2 linked regions of the Homo sapiens genome follow. The protein of the gene in region 1 purifies or fractionates together with the protein of each later gene. This does not show direct contact. Each region holds a gene or a part of one and is shown on either strand. Other genes may lie near its edges. The genes, in order: ACP3 and ATP6AP2.

The links.
Region 2: the proteins of ACP3 (region 1) and ATP6AP2 purify together in Homo sapiens (affinity purification with mass spectrometry; 2 studies listed by BioGRID and IntAct, with this or other methods). This does not show direct contact.

Annotation. Positions count from the first base shown.
Region 1 is NC_000003.12:132,310,983-132,323,878, reverse strand, and holds the start of ACP3 (prostatic acid phosphatase isoform PAP precursor), read right to left. Parts: upstream 6,473-12,896; 5' UTR 6,423-6,472; coding exon 6,303-6,422; intron 1-6,302. UniProt on the Homo sapiens protein: A non-specific tyrosine phosphatase that dephosphorylates a diverse number of substrates under acidic conditions (pH 4-6) including alkyl, aryl, and acyl orthophosphate monoesters and phosphorylated proteins.
Region 2 is NC_000023.11:40,589,443-40,598,409, forward strand, and holds part of ATP6AP2 (renin receptor precursor), read left to right. Parts: intron 1-1,791; coding exon 1,792-1,923; intron 1,924-7,806; coding exon 7,807-7,902; intron 7,903-8,084; coding exon 8,085-8,222; intron 8,223-8,967. UniProt on the Homo sapiens protein: Multifunctional protein which functions as a renin, prorenin cellular receptor and is involved in the assembly of the lysosomal proton-transporting V-type ATPase (V-ATPase) and the acidification of the endo-lysosomal system.

The sequences.
Region 1 (12,896 bases):
ATGTGGCTAGTCTTGTTTCTTTTATATCCTCATCACTCTTAGATATTATATCATGTTCTATTGCTCTTTGCATAAATTAAAGGTCCTTACAAGGGCTCACAAGATCTTACCTGATCTGGTCCCTACCCACCTTGATATTCTCACCTTGATGTCCTCAGCTTACCCACATGGGCCCTCCTGCTGTTACATCCAATATACTAAATTTGCTGAAGCCTCAGGGCCTTTGCTCTTGATGTCCTGTCTGCTTTGAATGTCTCAAGTCTGCGTCTTCTCTCAGCATACACACCACTCATCAATTTGAGGTCTGTCCTGAAAATTTGACCTTTACAGAGAGACATCCCTTGACCATCATTATAATTCTTGCTCAATCTCTATCTTATCTCACTGTTTTATTTCAAATAAATATTCCTGATGTTTTCTTATTTTTTGTTTTTACTAAAATTAAAAAAAATCTGGCTCCCTCCCTGTCCCTAGAAACTCCTTGAAAGCAGAAGCCTTGCTGTCACAAGCACTGCTATAACCCCAAAACAGTGCCTGGAACATAGTAATATGCAAAAAAGGCCTGTTCTGATGAACAGGTGAATCTCGGATTGGGTCTAGTACTTCCAGGTACATTATGGATTTCTTTCCAATCTTCTCATTTCATGAGGGTTTTTGATCATCATCCTTATTTATCAGCAAGGTGTGCTATGTGTGCTTTTTTTTTTTCCTTTCTTTCATCTTCTTGTCTTTCCCCTCTGTCTTAGCCCATTTTCTGTTGCTTTAACAGAATACCTGAGACTGGGAAATTTATAAAGGAAAGAGGTTTATTTTGCTCACAATTCTAGAGGTTAGGAAGTCCAAGATCAGGCAGCTGCATCTAGTCAGCTTCTGGTGAGGGCCTTGTGCTGTGTCATAACATGGCAGAAGGCATGACAGGACAAGAAGGGGCACACTGAGAGCCAAAATGGTTTTTATGATAGACTCACTGACATGATAACTCACCCACTTCTGTGATAACCTATTAATCCATTAATCTGTTAATCCATTAATCCATCAGGAGAGTAGAGCCCCCATGGCCCAATCACCTCTTAAAGGCCCCACCTCTTAAGGCTGTTACATTGGGATTAAGTTTCAACATGAGTTTTGGAGGGGACAAACATTCAAATTGTAGCAGTCTCTATCCTATTCATTTGTGCCTTTGCTTCTAGAACAGTGAGTCTGCTTCCAGACTGGATTGAAGTCTCATAAACCATCATGTTCTCCTTTCAGGTTTGGAATTGGAGACACATCATAAAACTTTGGGGTGATTCTGGAAGTCCTAAAAGGAACCTTATCTCCTGACATTAAATTCTTCTTATTATTTTATTAGGGTATACTCTAAGTTGTGAAAATCTCGTGATGCACAAAGATAACTATGAGTAGAAGTCTATTTTATTTTCTTCTTTTAGGACCTAAGAAATAAATCCATTGGTAAAGAAAATTAAAAATAAAATAGTTTGGGCAGAAATAATTGAGTAATGTAAATGAGTGTCATTTCAGAGGTTAGAAGGAAAGCTGGCTGACCTTGAAAGGAATCAGCATGAGAATATGTTCTGTACTCCCCGTGAAGCAATCAGGACAAGTCTAATAAGACTTTGATCCAGAGACTGGGACGAACACAGAGGCCTGCAAATAAGGGAAGCTGTAAAAACTGTGTATTATGTTGTGTAGAAGATGTGTGATATATCAGAAAAGGTCTGGGTTTTCAGTTGGTTAGACCTGGGTTCAAACTCCTGCTTTGTCAAGGTCCTGCTGGGTGACCTTGGGAAAATGATTTAACTTAACATTCTGCATGCCTCAATTTCCCTTTCCTTTCCTCAATTTCCTTTCGTGTAAAACACAAAAGCATTATTTCTCATCCAGGAGCATCATGAAAATTAAATGTGTAATATATGTAAAGCCATCAGTATAATACCGAGCACACCGGATGCATTTGATATGTGGGATTTATTATTATATTTGTTATAATTATTTTTGTTGTTATATTATTCAGACATTTAGCTTAGCTAACATATATACTTCCTTTCCTGCTGACAATAATTTGCAGCATATAGGGCAAATGAGCACTACCTATTGAGCAATGGGAAACAGCACTCTCCTTCGAGACATACCTCTGTTAATTTCTAATCATCTCTCCCTACTTTTATTTCCTTGGCTGAGAGGAATAATTAATTATTCCTTTGCATTTAGGATACTGAGAAGCACCCACAGGAATAACCTGGTTGGCTGAAATGTCTTGGCCAAATGCACCCTGAAAATTTGTGAAATGCATTGGCATAAATCTGGGGAGAAGCTCATGTAAGCAAACTGAACTGAGCCTGGCTCAGTACCAACTCTCAGCGCACGGTGCTGTTTCCGGCAAATGTCTTTGAAAAACCTGTGGTCTCCAGACAGCTTGGCTGTTCCTTGGATACAGTGATTAGGAGCCATACAGCAAGGGAGAGAGATTGTATGTAAGGTTGTTTGTGAACTGAGGCAGGAGACCTGATTTTTGCTTTTCAGTGGAATTTTATCTGGTCCATCTTTTTTTTTTTTCTTTTTTGCAGAGATGAGGTCTTACTATGTTAACCAGCCTGGAGTCTTGCACTCCTGGCCTCAAGCAATCCTTCTGTTTCGGCTTTCCAAAGTGCTGGGATTACAGGTGTGAGTTGCTGCACCCAGCCTCTGGTACCTCTTTTTATAAGCCAACCCAAGCGACAGGGTTTTTCCCTGTTGTCCAGGCTGGAGTGCAATGGTGTGATCCTAGCTCAATGTGGCCTCACACTGCTGTGCTCAAGTGATCCTCTAGCTCCACCTTCCCTAGTAGCTAGGAGGTCCTTCATGTCCATAATGTGGAAGTTACCCATTCCAGTATATAGATTATGTGCTGAGAATTTGGAGGCTGCTTCCATCAAGAATATCATATTATGCCAGGCGCAGTGGCTCACGCCTGTAATCTCAGCCCTTTGGGAGGCCAAGGCTGGTGGATCACCTGAGGTCAAGAGTTCAAGACCAGCCTGGCCAACGTGGTGAAACCCAGTCTCTATTAAAAATACAAAAACTAGCCAGGCATGGTGGCACACGCCTGTAATCCCAGCTACTTGGGAGGCTGAGACTGGAGAATCACTTGAACCTGGGAGACGGAGGTTGCAGTGAGCCAAGATCACGCCATTGCACTCCAGCCTGGGCGACAGAGTAAGACTCTGTCTCAAAAAAAAAAAAAAAACCCAAGAATATTATATTACTTGATTAAGAATTCTGCATGAAGAAAGTCAACCATGAAGAATGAGAAGAGTGTATACCTTGTAAGTCATCATTCCTTTCTTAACACCGGTGAAATGAGATGGAATTTTTCTGTCTTGGATCAGCTGAACTTGTGGGTTTTCTCTGGGTTAGGGGAGACAGGATGCTTTAAAATGACATTTTTCTATTTCTGGATGATATGGTGCATGAAATAACTTAAAAAACTCAAGTGGGTGTGTGTGGGAAATGAGTGGCTATGCAGATGAAACAAGATTGCATGGGTGATAGTCTTTGAAGCTGGTTGATGAGGACATCCAGATTCACCATATTTACGATTCTTTCCATATAAAGTTAAAAATGTCAGTTCTCTCAGTGTTTTCTACAGGACATTGGGGAAAAAAAGAGGGAGGTGAATGCTGTAATCAAAATTTTGAAAACAGAGTTTGGAAAACACTAGATCCTTTCCTTGAAAGCCACAGTGCGTATTAGCATGTTAAAGACTTAGGATTACTGCATTAAAGAGACCTTTTAAACACAGTTTAACCCAGTTCTATTCCCAAAGCTAACTTGACTATTGAAACTGATTTTTTCCCCATGTACACCTGTTAACAACTTGTCAAACTAGCATTTCATGGGTCACAGGCACTTCAGTTAGTCCGAGAACAAGAACCAAGGACAGTTTCCTCCTCTTTCTGCTGAGAACAGCTTTTCAGAATTGGGGAGGATTTATTTTTCTCGGATCACAGAGGAAAAGCAAGGGAACCACCTGCTGATTCAGAGTCAAGCTAATCCAGCAAACCTTACAGGGGGATCTCAGACTAGCTCCATGTGCTGGGTTATATACACACAGCAGGAAAAGACCATGTCTAGTGATAAAGGGAAAGGCATCCGGGGTCAGAGAGCCTGGGTTCAAATTCTGTCTCCACCATTCCATCTGTGTGACCATGGGCAAGATGCTTAACCTTTTTGTGCCTCAATTTCTTCATCTATAAAATAGGAATAATAAGTTTTACAAAACTTTATAGAATGGTTGCCAGATTTGGCAAATAAACATACAGGATGCCCAAATATTGCATGGGACTAAAAAATTATTTGCTATTTATCTGAAGTTCAAATTCAAATGGTCATCCCATATTTTATTTAACGACCTTATTTTAGAGGATTGTTGACAGGCTTATGTGATACAATTCATATTGAACACTCAGAACAGTGCCTTGTAAGCACTCAATTGCAGTAAGTACTTGCAGTAAGCACTCAATTGACTATTGGTTATTATCATTAATATTACCACTTTAGTTATGGGCATCTTTTAAAACAATTCTGGTTCTCCTAATAATTTTCTAAGAGTTATCTCATTTGTATAAATTAACCACTTATAGTCAAATATTCTCTTTAGTCAATAAAAATAAGAAACTGATGTTTATTGGCTTAAGTACTTAGATGGACGTTGTTTTATAAGGGCCAAGAAAGATGTATTAAATGGCCCTTCATCTACCATTAATGGAAGGAAATCATGGTAGGAAAAAATAGTTAACACTGGCTTTGTGCAATATTTGTTAATTTTTTTAGTTCTAAGAGAGCTAGCTTTGTATTTTGGCTTTCCTCAGGAAAGAATTAACTTGCAGTCCCTGAATATAGGAAACCCACAACAATTTGGTAGTCAAAGGAAGTTAGCCTGGGCTAACTTGGGTAAAACATGGAGGAGGGAATACATCATGTACAGTGAGCTTGGAGTAACTTGGATTTCTCAGAGGACTGCCACTCAACCAGCTTGTCACAGGTTTACAGTATTACAAGCACGGCAGATGCAGTACAATTTCTACAGTCCCTAAACTTGCCTCATGCACATGTTAGCAAGAAAACTACTGATAGAAGTACAAGCCTAGCTCACATGGGTTTCCCTAAAGAAGGCACACAGTATTATATATTTTTTTTCTGCACAGAAGTCTGACAGCTGGTGAATCATTTGTAAATAAATTGATAGTTTGTTTCACTGGGTTTTCTGTCATTGTTGACTCATGACCTAGTAAGGATTTACTGGACTATAAGAATAATGATTCAAATAAGCACATGGGTATCATATTTTCTGTAGAAAGTAAAGAGCTTTGAATATCCCATGCTGAAAAAAAAAAAAGCCTGAACTTTAATTTTTAAGGAAACAGTGACTTTCCTTCAAATTATAAAAATAATTTTTGAGTATTCTTGACAGAAAGAAAATTTACCTACTTATCAGCCCACTTTCACTATCTCAAATAAAAAAATGTAGGGAAGAGAAAGAAAACGAGAGAGGAAAGGCAAGAAGCAGCTTAGAGGCTTAGAGGCAGAGAAAGAGTGAAACAGAAGGAAAAAAAGATACAGAAACAGAAAATCAGACTCTTAGGTAACATGATGAATCCCCTTCACTTTGCAAACCCTCTTTCCATCTATTTTCAAACAATGTCAACAGTATATTTTCTTTTCTTGATATTATGCATCAGCCACCCCCCACCTTTTTTCATAACTGGTCACATGTGCCAATGATTTTAATCGTCAACTAAATCTATATATCAGAAAATCATCCTAAAATTCCAAATTTAGATTCACTTTTATGCTTCAAGGTTGTTTACAAATAGTTGTTCTAATTTCCTGATAAACAAAGGTGAAAGGACTACTTAATTCAGAAAATGACTGTTTTTTGGCTTGCAAACAAATAATGATTAAATTGAATGAAGCCAGCTCTTGGTACATAAACAGCGCCAGCTGTGGTTTCTTCTGGACTGGTGTGGCTGTCAAAAGGAATCTGAATTCAAGGCAGTTGTAAAGTAAGTAAATAAATAACATCAGCAAAAGCAAATAAAAAGCAACCCCTAAAAAAACAGCGACCAAAAAATATTTTTGTTAGGACACGTTAGGTCTTCATTAAGAGGAACTTGCAAAACTTGATTATTCACTTTCTGAGTTTGAACAGAGCCTGGTCTCTGGGAAACAATCCAAGGATAAGATGAAACCTGACGCTTGCCTTATCAGACTTTGCTGGGAACACAGTTTTAAGGAAAAAGCAATGAGAAAAGTCTACTTACCAAAGTCACAAACTTCAACTCCTTGGCTAGTACACTTCGGTCTAGCCAGAAAAAAAGCAGAAACAAGAAGCCAAGGCTAAGGCTTGCTGCCCTGGCCAGGAGGAGGGGTGCAGCTCTCATGTTGAGGAGAGCTGTTTCTGGCAGGAGTTAGGAGGAACTGCTACCACTTCAAAAGCCTGTAGAGGGGAAGCTATTTAATTAAGGGATTGAAAGGGAAGGAGGAGCCACACTCATAAGTAGTAAAGTTTCCAGGAAGCGTAGGGCAGGTTTGGTATGTAAATAATGTCATGTAAATTTTGAGCTGAGAGAGATCACAGTTTCCCCATTTAAGTTAGGACACCAAGGCCAAGAGCGGGGAAAGCTGTTGATCAAGGTCACAGAGCATGTTAGCAGACATTTCTATCCTTGTTTTCAGTTTACTTTTATCTTTGTTTTTTGTTTTTTTTTTTTTGAGACAGAGTCTTGCTCTGTCATCCAGGCTGGAGCACAGTGGCACAATCTCAGCTCACTGCAAACTCCGCCTCCCAGGTTCAAGCAATTCTCCTGCTTCAGTCTTCCTGAGTAGCTGGGATTACAGGCGTGCACCACCACACCCGGCGAATTTTTGTATTTTTAGTAGAGACGGGGTTTCACCATGTTGGTTAGGCTGGTCTCCAACTCCTAACCGCATGATCCGCCTGCCTTGGCCTCCCAAAGTGCTGAGATTACAGGCATGAGCCACTGTGCCAAGCCAGTTTACTTTTATCTTTTCTTTAGATAGGGTATGATACAGCGTTGGATTTGTGGCTGTCACTTGGGAAAGGGATCTACCCTGACTTTAGAAACCTTAGACCAGTGATTCTTAATCTGTTGGGAGTCCAAAGTTATAGGACTGAAATCTGGAAGGAAATACAGGTGTTGACATATTTGGGGCCTATTTCCATGCCAAACATGGCTACTTTTTCAAAAACTCTCATGTAGCCTATAGAGGTATTTTTAAATTAAAGAAGAAAAGTAACAGCAAGTTTATTTTGAAAAATTTTAGGCTGGGCGTGGTGGCTCATGTCTGTAATCCCAGCACTTTGGGAGGCCGAGGTGGGCAGATCACTTGAGGTCAGGAGTTAAGACCAGCCTGGCCAGCATGGTGAAACCCCATCTCTACTAAAAATACAAAAAAAAAAAATTAGCCTGGCGTGGTGGCACATGCCTATAGTCCCAGCTACCTGGGAGGCGAGGCAGGAGAGTCACTTGAACCCAGGAGGTGGAGGTTGCAGTGAGCCGAGATTGTGCCACTGCACTCCAGCCTGAGTGACAGAGCAAGACTCCATCTCAAAACACAGCAAAACAAACAAACAACAACAAAAAACAAACAAAAGAAAAATTTTAGTCACACCTTAAGACAATTGGACATTACCTGTGGTATCTCAAAATTAGATTGGAGGTCCCTTTCCAAACCTGACAGAGTTTTTTAAGAAAGCAAAAAGCCCAAACCTACAATTCTATATTATTAGTCATCAACTTTGGCCATAAGCCTTAAATTTTGAGTGAGTTACATCCTTGCCTCTCCAGCTATGATCTCACTGGGGACACTACAAAAGGCGATCCAGACTGATGGAACTTTGCTTTCCATTTTCCCCAACCTGTCAGTTCCATCATAGGCTAAAACAATACAAACTTGAGGTGCACATTGAGATTTTGCAAGATTTGGGGGCAGAGCTGCCTGTCATGATATTTCTATCATAATGGCAGAGGGAGAACAATGGTTTACCCGCAACCTGTTTCCTGGTACATTGCGCTTACCTGTGGCAGGAGGATTGTGTTCTTATGTGATCATAGGATGCCCTGGAATGTGGTATATGGGAGAACTGTTCCTTCTTCCGGCAGTAGGAAACATGCGCAAATAGGCTGGGCATGGTGGCTCACGCCTGTAATCCCACCACTTTGGGAGGCTGAGGTGGGCAGATCACTTGAGATCAGGAGTTCGAGACCAGCCTGGTCAATGTGGTGAAACCCCATATCTACTAAAAATACAAAAATTAGCCAGGTGTGGTGGTGGGAGCCTGTAATCCCAGCTACCTGGGAGGCTGGGGCAGGAGAATCACTTGAATCCGGGAGGCTGAGGTTGCAGTGAGCTGAGATCACACCACTGCACTCTAGCCTGGGCAATAGAGTGAGACTCTGTCCCCCCTCCAAAAAAAAAAAAAAATGTGCAAATAATAAATGCATGTGTGATTAGGATTAACCATTCAAGGGAACTTGCAACTTTCTCTTTGCCATCACATTCTCGACCTGCCAGTCTACACTGTCAATTTTAATGAGTAAGATTTTGAGGAAATGGGTGCAAGAAAAAGGAAATAAAAATTGGGAGGTTTTCCAGTCCAGGGCATACATGAAGTTGATACATTAATCCCTGCTGTGTGCACCAGGCAATCTGAGAAAGGAAGCTCCAGCACCTATGTACCATTCACAGGCAAATTTCTGAACCACATTTCTTAAATTGTGCCAGATGTCTGCTTCTATTGAATGCCTTATTTTCTCAGCTATCTGCCTGGGTCCTTGTTCTATCTCCTTCCTTGTCTCACCCTTGGACTGGTGCTTGGAACTATTTCAGCAATAGCCTTAGACCTTCCTGATAATGAAGACTGATTTTATAATCTACCTATACCATGTTGCACTGGTTGGATAAACCCTCTTTCTGACCTAGACCCTAATTTTTTCTGTGGTACCGCCTGTGGGGTCCTTTTAGCTCTTCAAGTGAGAAGGGCAACAACAACAAAGTTTTCTTTGAAAACCAGAAAAAGCCTGCTTGAATTGAATACATCTCAACTCAAACTTAATCCAAGTTGAATTAAATGGTTTATACTTCTATCTCAATCATCATCCTCACTTCCACTTTGATCATTCAGTTATAAGGGGAGAAGAAGTATTCAAAGTCATAAATGTAGAGTCTTGAAAAACCTGAACACCATGAAATGGAGTGTAAAAGATCCTCAACTCAGATGAAACCTGTTTTAGAATGTTCTGTGGCACCTTGAACTTTGAACTCAATAAGGTCTTTGCAAAGACATAAGGGTCATCTGGGATAAATATATGGATATAGTATGTATTAGTCCACGTTCATACTGCTTTGAAGAAATACCTAAGACTGGGTAATTTATAAAGAAAAATAAATTTAATGGACTCAAAGTTCCACATGGCTGGGGAGGCCTCACAATCATGATGGAAGGTGAAGGAGAAGCAAAGGCACATCTTACATGGCAGCAGGCAAGAGAGTGTGTGCAGGGAAACTGCCCTTTATAAAACCATCAGATTTCATGAGACTTAATCACTGTCACAAGAATAGCATGGGAAAAGCCCTCCTCCACGATTCAATTACTTCCCACCAGGTACCTTTCATGACATGTGGGGATTATGGGAGTTACAATTCAAGATGAGATTTTTGTGGGGACACTGCCAAATCATATCATAGTAACATCAAAAGTGAGATTTGAAAAAACACTGGGAAGTCTTTATGTAAGAGTTTAGGGTGTCAATAATTTTCCATGATTAGTAGGACTTACTGACTGAATCACTTGTGTTCTCTTGTTGTACTTCTTTCTCTATATGTCAAGTGCTCAACCTCAAATGAACTGTTCTAATGAACAGTTAGAAAGTTCCATAAGTGGAGCAGGTTAGGATTTTTGAAAATCAGACTCCCAGATAGATATTTGCATGTAGGAAGTTTATTAAGGAGTGCACTCAGGATTAACTCCAGTGGTGGGTAGAGAAATAACCAAGGTTGGGCAGAGGGAGAAGTTGATTTGTAATGCAATATTGTTGAAGATGTCAGCTGACCCTGTTACAAGTTCTGAAGATAGGAGGGCCTTTCAGGGTTGTCTTGAATTGAGGTGAGGAGCCAGGCCTTTTTTATTAGCCAGTCATTGGACGTAGTCTGCCCCTGGTAGGGAGTATGACCATGGATAAGGCAAAGGTGACTCTCTTCTGCCAAAATAATTCCCAAAGGGGTTGCTAGCTGAGTGATGTCAAACAAATTTCCAAGAGCTAGGAGCAATGAATCCTTGGGCAGTGTAACACAGAATCTATGATGATGAACACTTATAGGAAAAAAATTGTGATCCTTAGTAGATCACAGCCTATGAAAGCACTAAATATGCCTCTGACCATAAGAGTCTGAGTTGGGAGGTGAGATCCATCAGTAAGTATATGGCTGTTCACCAGCATCACAAGGAAGACTGTGTTTAACCTGTCTGGCTTCTTATGGCCTTCATAATTGTATTATTTGACTCTCAGGGCCTTATGAACTATTGGGTACTCAATAATACTGATTGACCAACTGTCAATATAAATGCAAATGACTGCATCAGAGCCCTGTTACAATGTGAATTGCTTTGAGGCAAAATTTAATAAGATGGCTTTAGAATAAATGTTCTCCTCTTCTCAAACCATCATTTTGTGGAGGGCCTTTTTGCCCTCGGCATAAAATAACTATTTTATTGTTTAGTATTTAGACAAACATCCCCCATAAAACCAAAGACTGTATCATAAGAATGTCATCAACTAAGGTGTGTGTACCTAGGGGATTCATGCAATGGTCTAACACTTTAAAAAGTAAAGAAAGTGTTAAAACTTTTATTTCTGTTTATTTTTTTACCTAAGAAAGAAAAAAAAGATTTACAATGGAAATTTATTCACAATGGACTGTTTTAAAATGGGCTATTATTTGGCCATTAAAAAAAGATCCAAGTACTGATACCTGCTACAACATGGATGAACCTTTAAAATATTAGGTTGATATTCCTTCTAAAATAGAACACATATTTGTATGATTCCACTTGTATTAAATGTTCAGAATAGAAAGATCTTAGGAAACAGCCTAAGATTTTTTAAAGATTGCTTAGGACACGGAGAAAGGAGGCGGAGGGTGATGATGGCTGAGGGGTATGTGGTCTCTTTTTGGGCTGCTAAAAATAGTCTAAAATTGATTGTAATGATACTTGCACAACTCTGACTATACTAAAAACTATTGAATTGTACACTTTAAATGAATGAATTTTATGACATCTGAATTATATTTCAATAAAGCTGTTATCTAAATAATTTACCACAAAATAAATATTCCAATATTTAATATAAGCATGGCAATAGAAGTATATCCTTAATAAATGAACACATATCTATTACTTGTAATACTGATGGAGTCCATGGTTGAACCAGTTTAAACATTACTGAATAAAATTAATATTAATTATAAAATATAATTTATATATATATATAAACTTAGAGTATTAAAATTATCTATTGCTGTGAAACAAATGAACACAAACTTAGTGGCTTAAAACAACACACATTTCTTATCTTACCTTTTTCCTGAATCAGGAGTCTAAGTATAACGTAAAAGGCCTTTTTGCTCAGGATTTTTCACAAGGCTCCAATCAAGGTGTTAGCCAGGCCTGGGATCCTGTCCCAGCTCCTGTGGTTGTTGGCAGGAATCAGTTCCTTGCAAGCTGTTTGGGGGCCCCAGTTCCTAAATTGCTGGCTGCTGCGTAGAAGCTGCCTTCAATTCCTTGCTACTTGGGCCCCTCCAAGAGGGCTGTTTGAGTCATCAGAACATGCAAACTAAGGCAACAGAGAAACTTCAGAGATCATCTTTCCAGGACTTCATAAAATTTATCATGTGTAAGGATTACCCAAAGAGTTTAATAAAAAACAGACTTCTCCTGGGCCTCACTCCTGGAAATTCTGATTCAGTGGGTTCAGGTAAGATGAGGAATGATGTCCCACTAATACTTAATGGTGCCTAAGGCAAAAGGCAAAAATCATTAAACCAATCCTGTCATTACATAAAATTTTGATATGTTGTTTATTATGGATTGTTTAACATTAATTTTTATTTTTCAAAATTTTGCATTAAAATATTCCTTCTTTTGATTATAGGTTTTTGGTACACCTTAAGTGTTGAGCCCAAGGAGAATGCCTCACTCACCTCACACTAATTCCCAGCCGTGACTCTAAGAATTGGAAGCTGGAGATAACATACTTTTTCCTTTTGAGATGAAATGATCTAACTTTCTCTGATTCTCTCTACGAGGAAATGCAGGCTTGGGTGAGGTGAATCCAGCTTTGGCTGACTGTACTGAGGCACTCAGGACTGAATGGGACTCAGGACTTTTTGTCTTTTAGACTGAACAGAGCTGACCTCTAGCTACTCCTCGGACTGTCATTACTTGCATAGAGCTAGCCCCCTCATGCTTCATGTGTGTAACAAAGCTGCTTTTCTCACAGTCAGGAGGCAAACATTGGCCTATTACTATTTCACCTTTAATACAGGCTTACAGAATGAACTTACAAAAATATGATGTAATCTCATTTTGTATAAATGTGTATCAAAGAAAAGACAGAATAGAGATGGGCCAATATTTTTAATGGTGATTTTTTTGGGGGGTTGATGGGATTATATGTGTTTTCATTTTCTTTCTTCTACTTTTCTCTACTTTCCAAATGTCTTATAATGAATAGATATTTTAATTAAAATCAGAAAACAAATTGTAAAATATCTAGCATTAACTTCATGATAATTCTCATTTGAGTGAGTATCAGAGTTATAGAAGGTAGGCC
Region 2 (8,967 bases), on another chromosome or scaffold:
TCTGAAACAAATCATTAGAAATCATTAACTATATAATTATTTATTCATAGTAGTGAAATTCTTTGTATATTAGAGAATGCATCTGTCCTACTCTTAATAGGATATCTACTTTCTGGTTTTTTTTTTTTAGTATAGGCGATAGATTCACTATGAATGATAAAATATATATGCATTATGCCTGAGGTTAGGAAAATAATGTGGTCAGTAGCCATGGGGCAGCCAAGGACCTTGGTTTCCTAGAATGGAGCTATGACCTGTTGTAGTAATTGGCTGCTTATGTGATTGTAGGGGGCGGGAGGGTCTAGATCCAGTCAATGTGAGAGATCGAAAGGTAAGGGCTCAGAAGAAAGGAAATACAGCTTGCTCGGTGCTATCATCTCCTTCTCTTTGTAAGTCTGGTGCTTTTGATGTGGTCTCTAGATATATATCATCAGTCACTGAAAGGAACTTTTCTCCAAATCCTGAGCACCCTTGAAAACAGAAACTCTACCTGGGAACTGCTTCACTGCCAGGCCTAAGGGCAGAGCCCCTGAGCTTTTTGTAGTCTTTGGGCAACCAAAGTGAACAGGATTGGTTGTTTACATTTAAGGATGAAATTTGTACCTAGTTATTTTTTTAGAGACAGGGTCTGGCTGTGTCACCCAAGCTGAGTTTGAGTCTGCATGACTCACTGCAGCCTCAAACTCCAGGGCCCAAGTGATCTTCCTGCCTCAGCCTCCTGCCTCAGCCTTCTGAGTAGCTAGGACTACAGATGCATGCCATCACGCCTAGCTGATTTTTTAATTTTTTGTAGAGACAGGGTCTCGCTATGTTGTCCAGGCTGGTAGGTCTTTAACTCCTGGCCTCAAGCAATCCTTTCTGCGTCAGCCTCCCAAAGTGCTGGGATTACAGGCACGAGCCACCACACCCAGCCTGTACCTAATTCTTTTTTTGTTTTGTTTTGTTTTGTTTTTTGCTACAGGGTCCCGCTCTATCACCCAAGCTAGAGTGCAGTGGCCTGATCTCGGCTTACTGCAACCTCCACCTCCCAGGTTCAAGAGATTCTCCCACCTCAGCCTCCCCGGTAGCTGGGACCACAGGCGTACAACACCATGCCCAGATCATTTTTATATTTTTTGTAGAGACAGGATTTTGCCATGTTGCTCAGGCTGGTCTTGAACTCCTGGACACAAGGAATCTACCTGCTTCAGCCTCCCAAAGTGCTGAGATGACAGGCGTGAACACCACACCTGACCATCTAGTTCTTTACAACCTTAAACTTGACTACTGATGGCTATTAAAATAACTGAGAAATAATTATTAGTAAACTAATGATAGTTACTTTTAGTAGGAATTGTTTTATTTATAAAGATCTTAGTCTAAAGAGGATGTTTTAATGACCATCTTGCTATGTCTCTGTGAAAGATAAAAGTGATGCTGTATATGAGGGCAAAAAATGATGTGGGGGAAGAAAATTTCCATGGCTACATGAAGAAAATATTTTGTGATCTGAAATTTGAAAGGTACCTATGTTTTGTTTACTTGCTTGCTTTTTTCCACAAAAGGTGTCAGATGACTTACTATTGGACTTTATTTCAAATCTGTAAAATTTTAAGAAAATGAAGAGGGTAGAAATCAGCATTCTTGATTAGGGGATTGCAACGACTGCCACAAATAAAATGTTTACTTTCCCTGTGAATTTTCCTTGTCAGTGTCATCTCAGAACCCCTTAACTCTGCTTATTAGATGTTATTGGGGAGGTGGGTTCCTGAGTTGATAATTAAGCACCGCTTTGTGCTTTTCAATGTTTAGGACCTTTCTTGGCCAGGACTCGCAGTGGGTAACCTGTTTCATCGTCCTCGGGCTACCGTCATGGTGATGGTGAAGGGAGTGAACAAACTGGCTCTACCCCCAGGCAGTGTCATTTCGTACCCTTTGGAGAATGTGAGTATTTATTATAAAAAATTAAAGGGATGCATTTTACATTTTCCCTTGTCAGCTGTCATTATGAATTGCATTCTAAACATACTTCTCTTATCTGTTTTTGATGCACAGTTTCTTTTGAAATTCTTTGACAAACACAATTTCTTTTTAAGAAAATTACATGATGATTGTAATTAACTGAGGCTTGGCTGTTCTCTGTGGATGAGAGTACTGTTTAAGATAAGAGATAGAGAAATTGCCCCACTCAGAATAGCCAGAGGCTTGAAAAAGAGAGCCACTAAAGGAGAAACCAGTTGGGGTTGTATCCTGCTACTGTTTTTTTGGCCATTGTCTTGTCATCTTCCCTGCAGGATTTTACCTCTTTTCGTGTGTAAGGACACTGGAGGCTGCTTGCTGGCTCACTTACTCCTTCACTGGCTATTCAGGCAATGTGGGTGACTGTGCTGATCTAAGAGGCCCTCCTTCCATTATAAGCATATAGAAGTGCTTGAAAGAATGTCACAAAAAACATTTTTACTAGCATAACTAAATTTGAATGCAAGAGGGGGTGATATACACAGGTGTTACATATGGATGGAAAACTCAGAAGCCATAGTGGTGAGCAGAAGCTGACGCTGAAACTGTGTTTCCTGCAGAAAGCCAGGGACTAGAAATGCTGTCAACTTGTTCTTGAAAAGCAGACTAGTAAAACTAGTAAAGCTGGCTTGCTGCCCTTGGCTGTTGGACCCAAAGAGTCCCCTGAGATAAATTAGAATTAGAATTATAGGCTTATGCTGTGCAGAGTGGTTCTTTGCAAATTCACATGACCTGCCCCATAGGGACATCTCCATAGCCAAGGGCTCCTTTGGTCAAATACGGAAGATGAGTGGAATTTACAAAGCACCTGAAGGAAAAAAAATGCCATGAGAAACAGGTGCAACAAACAGAATTCATCTCCTTAGAACTACGGAGAATAGGCCAATTTCCAAGAGATCTAAAAATACATACATTAAAATTGTGAAAAAAAGGGCCAGGCATGGTGGCTCACGCCTGTAATCCCAGCTTTGGGAGGCCAAGATGGGAGGATTGCTTGAGGCCAGGAGTTTGAGACCAGCTTGGTCAACATAGCAAGACCCTATCTCTAGGGGGAAAAAAAAAGAAAGAAAGAGAAAAAATTTGTGAAAAAAAGGAAGGAACAGAAACTATGAGGGAGTTATAAGACATTTTTGATACATGGTGCTTTAGCTGATACTTCAAAATATTTCATAATTTATATTGTGATTCTTTAACCCATGAGTTATGTAGAAGTATTTTTTCCAAATGCATGGGTTTTAAAAAAGTAATTTCTAATTTTTAAATTTCTAAGTTCACTGCATTGTAATACTGTGGTCTATGTGATGCTGAAGTTTTGGGATTTTTTTTTTTTTCAGACTTTCCTGTGGTCGAGTATAGATTATTTCCAAGTACACATGGCATACTTAGAAAAAATTACTGTGCAGTAGTCCACAAGGCAAATCTCAACAAACAATAAAGAATCAGTGTCATATAAACTAACTTCTCTGACCACAATGCAGTTAAATCTGAAAATAATAATAAAATGATATCTTAAAAGGGTATTTGGAGCCCGGCACCATGGCTCACGCCTGTAATCCCAACACTTTGAGAGGCCAAGGCGGGTGAATCACTTGAGGCGAGGAGTCCGAGACCAGCCTGGCCAACATGGCTAAACCCTGTCTCTACTGAAAATACAAAAATTAGCCAGGCGTGGTGGCACGCATCTGTAGTCCCAGCTACTCAGTGGCTGAGGCACGAGAATTACTTGAAACTGGGAGGTGGAGGTTGCAGTGAGCTGGGATTGCGCCACTGCACTCCAGCCTGGGTGACAGAGCGAGACTCCATCTGGGAAAAAAAAAAAGGTATTTGGATCAACATTTCTCCTTTCCCCATCCACCCGTCTCCCCCAGCGTCTTCTAACCATCATTCTACTCTACTTCTATGAGTTCAACTTACAAGTGAGGTCATGTAGTATTTGTCCTTCTATGCCTGGCTTACTTCACTTAACATAATGTCCTCCAGGTTTATCCATGTTGCAAATGACAGTTTCCCGCGCTTTAAAGGCTGTATAGTATTCCATTATGTTTATATACCACATTTTCTTTCTGCTTTTTTCTTTTTTTTTTGAGACAGAATCTTGCTCTGTCGCCCAGGTTGGAGTGCAGTGGCGCAATGTCATCTCACTGCAACTTCTGCCTCCTGGGTTCAAGGGATTCTGGTGTCTCAGCCTCCTGAGTAGCTGGGATTACAGGTGCATGCCACCACGCCCAGCTAATTTTTTGTATTTTTAGTAGAGATGAGGTTTCATCATGTTGGCCAGGCTGGTCTCGAACTCCTGAGCTCAGGTGATCCACCCACCTCAGCCTCCCAGTGGATCTCAGTGCTGGGATTACAGGTGTGAGCCACTGCACCCAGCTGCACATTATCTTTATCCATTCGTTTGATTATGGACACCGAGGTTGCTTCCATCCATATCTTAGAAATTGTAAATAGTGCTGCAGTGAACATGGGAGTGCAGATATCTCTTCAGCATACTGACTTCAATTGCTTTGGATATATATACCCAGAAGTGGGCTTGCTGGATCATGCTTTAGTGATCTATTGCACAAAATGGTGACTATATTAAATAATAATGCATTGTGTATTTCAAAATTGCTAAAGGAGTAGATTTTAGATACTTTTACCACAAAAAAAATATAAGTATGTGAGGTGATGGATTTGTTCATTAGCCTGATTTAATCAGTCTACTTTGTAAACTTATAACAAAACATAACATTGTACCCCATAAATATATACAGTTACTATTTGTCAGTTAAAAATAAAATAAAAAGTATTTGGAAATAGTAACAAACAGAAGATAACAACTCCTCAGATTTAAAGCATATGGAACACCCAGTAGGCAAAAGCCAGATCCACACCTACATACGGTGAAATTGAAGAGTCATCAAGGAAATGGAAAATCTTAAAAGCTGTGAGGGAGAAAAGACACTGTCATTACAAAGGAATGAGAGTAGAAGGAAAGCAAGGAAAATGTAGTGATTGTGTAGTATGAGCTAGGCTGAGTATTATTTGCATTGTCATAATAATGAAATGATGCTGATCAAGTGAAAATTTTGATATAACTATTGGGTAAGAGTGGGGAGATAGAAACAGAAGCAGAGCGCATGGATGGCTCAGCGCATGGATGGGGCAGTGGTTGGTGATGTGAGAGAGCTAAAGCCTCATTTTCTATAATGGATAGTAAATAGACAAGACCTAAAATTGAAAAATCAGGAGATGTAATTTAAGTGTCTTATTTAGAGATGTTAAAAGCAAAAAAAGTCAACAAGAAAAGATAGTTGGAATAGATGCACTCCTAAATAATTCATGGGTTGAGGAGGAAATCACTGTGGAACTTTTTAAATTATTTGGAACTGAGTAACAATGAATGTAGCATTTATTTACAAAATTGGGAGGTGCAGCTAACGTGGTAAGAAAAGGGAAATTTATAGCCTTAAATGCATGTTTTAGACAATTTAGGTTGTCTAAGAATGGAAATTAATGAGCTAAAGAAAGCGGAAGAACTTCAGAGTAAATACACATAAAGTAGAAGGAAGGGAACAATACAGATCAAAAGGCAGATTATTTCACAGGGAGCATTTAAGTCATTTTTTATGTGATTTCTGTGAAAATCATTGCAGAAGATTTTCTTTAAAATTATAAAAATCCAAAATGCCATTTTGAGATTTTTATTAGCATGTAATCCAAAAATAAAGATTTAAAAACAGACTAGCCTCATTTTACATGAGAAGAAGCTGTGCTGTGTGAGGAGCTCATTTTATTGCTTGGCCCTGGTTGGCTGCTCAATGCTTTTCCTAGCAGAAGATGGTAAATGAGATAAAAGATTCAGGGGCAAACCCCACAAAACATAAAAATCAGAGTATCTTAGAATTCCATTTAACGAAGCTTCCATTTGATTAGCTAGCTGTTTTAGTTAGAATTTCAAGTCATACAGGTACAGAAATTTGAGGACAGATATGCATCTCCCTTACAATACAGTGAGAGAAAAACCATCATTCGATATTAAGCAGCCAAGCTTTTTACTTTTTGAGCTTAGCTGCCTATATAATTATTTCTTTTCCTTCATTGGTGTTCATTTGATTCATGAGCTGCTTCAATTTGATCGCTATGGACATGGTTCCTAATCTTCAACTTTCCTGAACCGAGCGCCATTTCACTAAGTGAAGTGAGGCTGGAAAGTTTGCATCATTTGCTCATGTATTCCCCTCACAGCCTGAGGAGGTAAACTCTATGATCGCTAAAGGAAAGCACCTATAGATGATTCAGGGCGGCTGCTAGCAGTATGCTTTTGCAACTTTGAACTCTCTTCCCCCTCTTCACTTACTCATTAACTCATTTTGAGAGAATTTGGGGAAGAGTTAATAAGCATCTTGAGTAAGAGAAAAAAATTATTTCATTTCACAGAATCATAAAATTGATCACTTAATATTGATGCTGGGCCTGGGCATGGTGGCTCACGCCTGTAATCCCAGCACTTTGAGAGGCCAAGGCAGGCAGATCACATCAGGCCAGGAGTTTGAGACTAGCATGGCCAACTTGATGAAACCCCGTCTCTACTAAAAATACAAAAATTAGCCAGGCGTGGTGGTGCGTGCCTGTAATCCCAGCTATTCAGGAGGCTGAGGCAGGAGAATCACTTGTACCTGGGAGGTGGAGGCTGCACTGAGCCGAGATCGCGCCACTGTACTCCAGCCTGGGCAACAGAGTGAGGCTCTGTCTCAAAAAAAAAAAAATGTGATGCTGGGATTTTATCAGTAAGACATAATCACATTGATTTCTGCCTGTATCATATTAGCGTTACTTTGCTACTTGTAAACATGAATCTTTAAGTAGTAAGGGAACTACTGAATGAAAGATCAATGTAAGAAATCTCCATTAAAACAAAAACATGACTGTACTGCTTGTTTTAATACAGTAATACTGGGAATGAAATAATTTTTTTAGGGGAAAAATAACTGTAATTTATTTTTTTAAATCATGTACTGCAAAACAAATCTATGGGGATAGAAGTCAGAATTTTTGTTACCCTTGAGGGTGGAGGTAGTACTTCGAGGGCGCTGATAGTGTTCTGTGTCGATCTGGCTGGGCTACCTGAGTGCATGCATGTGTAAACATTTGTTGAGCTGTTACCCCAAGATTTGTATACTATATTATATGTATTTTGCACTTTAATAAAAAAATTGAAGGAAAAAAGTAGGTCTTATCACCATTGGTTATTTCAATCTAATAATATCAACATGTCCTAAGATAAAGGCTTCAAAAACCTTGTGACATACTTAACACCTTATCTAAGAGTCTTTAGGCTATCTGAAGACAAATGTTAAATCTCATTAAACATTTTTAAAATTTTGAAATGAAAGATGAATTCCATTTTTATTTCAATTAAATTCAATACTCAGATTCCTCTAACCTCTTAAATGCAAATTAAATACTTTATTGTGGAATATGCATTCATCGTGGCACATTTAGTCAATATTGAAACCAAATGTATTGCTGCTTCAAATACATGAATGACCACCAGAAAATGGTTTGTGCTAGATATAGTGTTGTGTCCATCAGGTTTAAGTTATTTTCCACTGAGGCATGATGGGAGATACAGACTTGGCTTACCAGGGGGCTGTTTAATCTTCTGTGCCCTCAAAAGGGCTTGTTTGGAAATGATTTCGGGCTTCTAAATTTCCATAGAAAGTGCTGGAAAAAAGTTTAAGGCTTCTTTTTAAATACCATCTGAATGATTTTTCTTCCCACTTTGGTTCACATAATAATTGCGTTCTTACTCTTAAATTTCAGGCAGTTCCTTTTAGTCTTGACAGTGTTGCAAATTCCATTCACTCCTTATTTTCTGAGGAAACTCCTGTTGTTTTGCAGTTGGCTCCCAGTGAGGAAGTAAGTGATAAGGGTTTTATTCAAGACATTTTAAAAAATAAGCTTTTATTATTTGAAAATTATGAAATGTAATTTTATTATGAAAATATAAAACTAATTTATGAACAATGTTGTCATACCTCTGGGTATTGGAACTAATCTGTAGAATTTGAGCAACTTAAAATTTTCTATTCTTCTTACAGAGAGTGTATATGGTAGGGAAGGCAAACTCAGTGTTTGAAGACCTTTCAGTCACCTTGCGCCAGCTCCGTAATCGCCTGTTTCAAGAAAACTCTGTTCTCAGTTCACTCCCCCTCAATTCTCTGAGTAGGAACAATGAAGTAAGTGCAGTTATTCAATGAATACATGAATATCATTAATTTCCGTCTTTTTAAAAAATAGAGACAGGGTCTCACTCTGTTGTCCAGGCTGGTCTTGAACTCCTGGCCTCAAGCAATCCTGTCTTGGCCTCCCAAAGTGCTGGGATCACAGGCTTGAGCCACTGCATCTGGCCTCCCATTCCTTATACTACTTGAAATTTTGGAAATTTTGCTATTTTAGAAAATGAAAGATTGTGCACATTTACTGCTGGGGTAGATTCTTCTTTAGTGTAATTTTCTTATGACTCTCATGAATAAACTGATCCTTTTTGTGAGTTGAGCTGTGGTAAATAACATCACATTTTAGCACGAGGGTTGCCACCTATTAATTCAAACAAGCCAGAGGTCATAGATCTACTTGGTGACTGGTGGAGCTGTGTGGATCTGGTAACTTGGAAGCCATTGTTCACTGCCTCTGCTGATTTGTTGCCACATTTTTCTCATTCATTCTGGACATTGCAGTGGAGGGAGCCACCTCTACTTTTGACTCCTGTCCTTCAGTTTCTCCATCTGCTCATGCGCCCTCTTAACCATGTGGCATGCCACTTTCGTGGTGGCCTCCCCTTTTTATTTGCTGTGGATGACCAGGGCCATCATCCTTTATTCTCTGATGTGGAAACTATTCAAGGGAAGTGAGCAAACTGGGCCAATGGTAGGATGTCATTGCAGAGTGCCAGGATATCCTGATGCTTTGAAGGAAAACCAC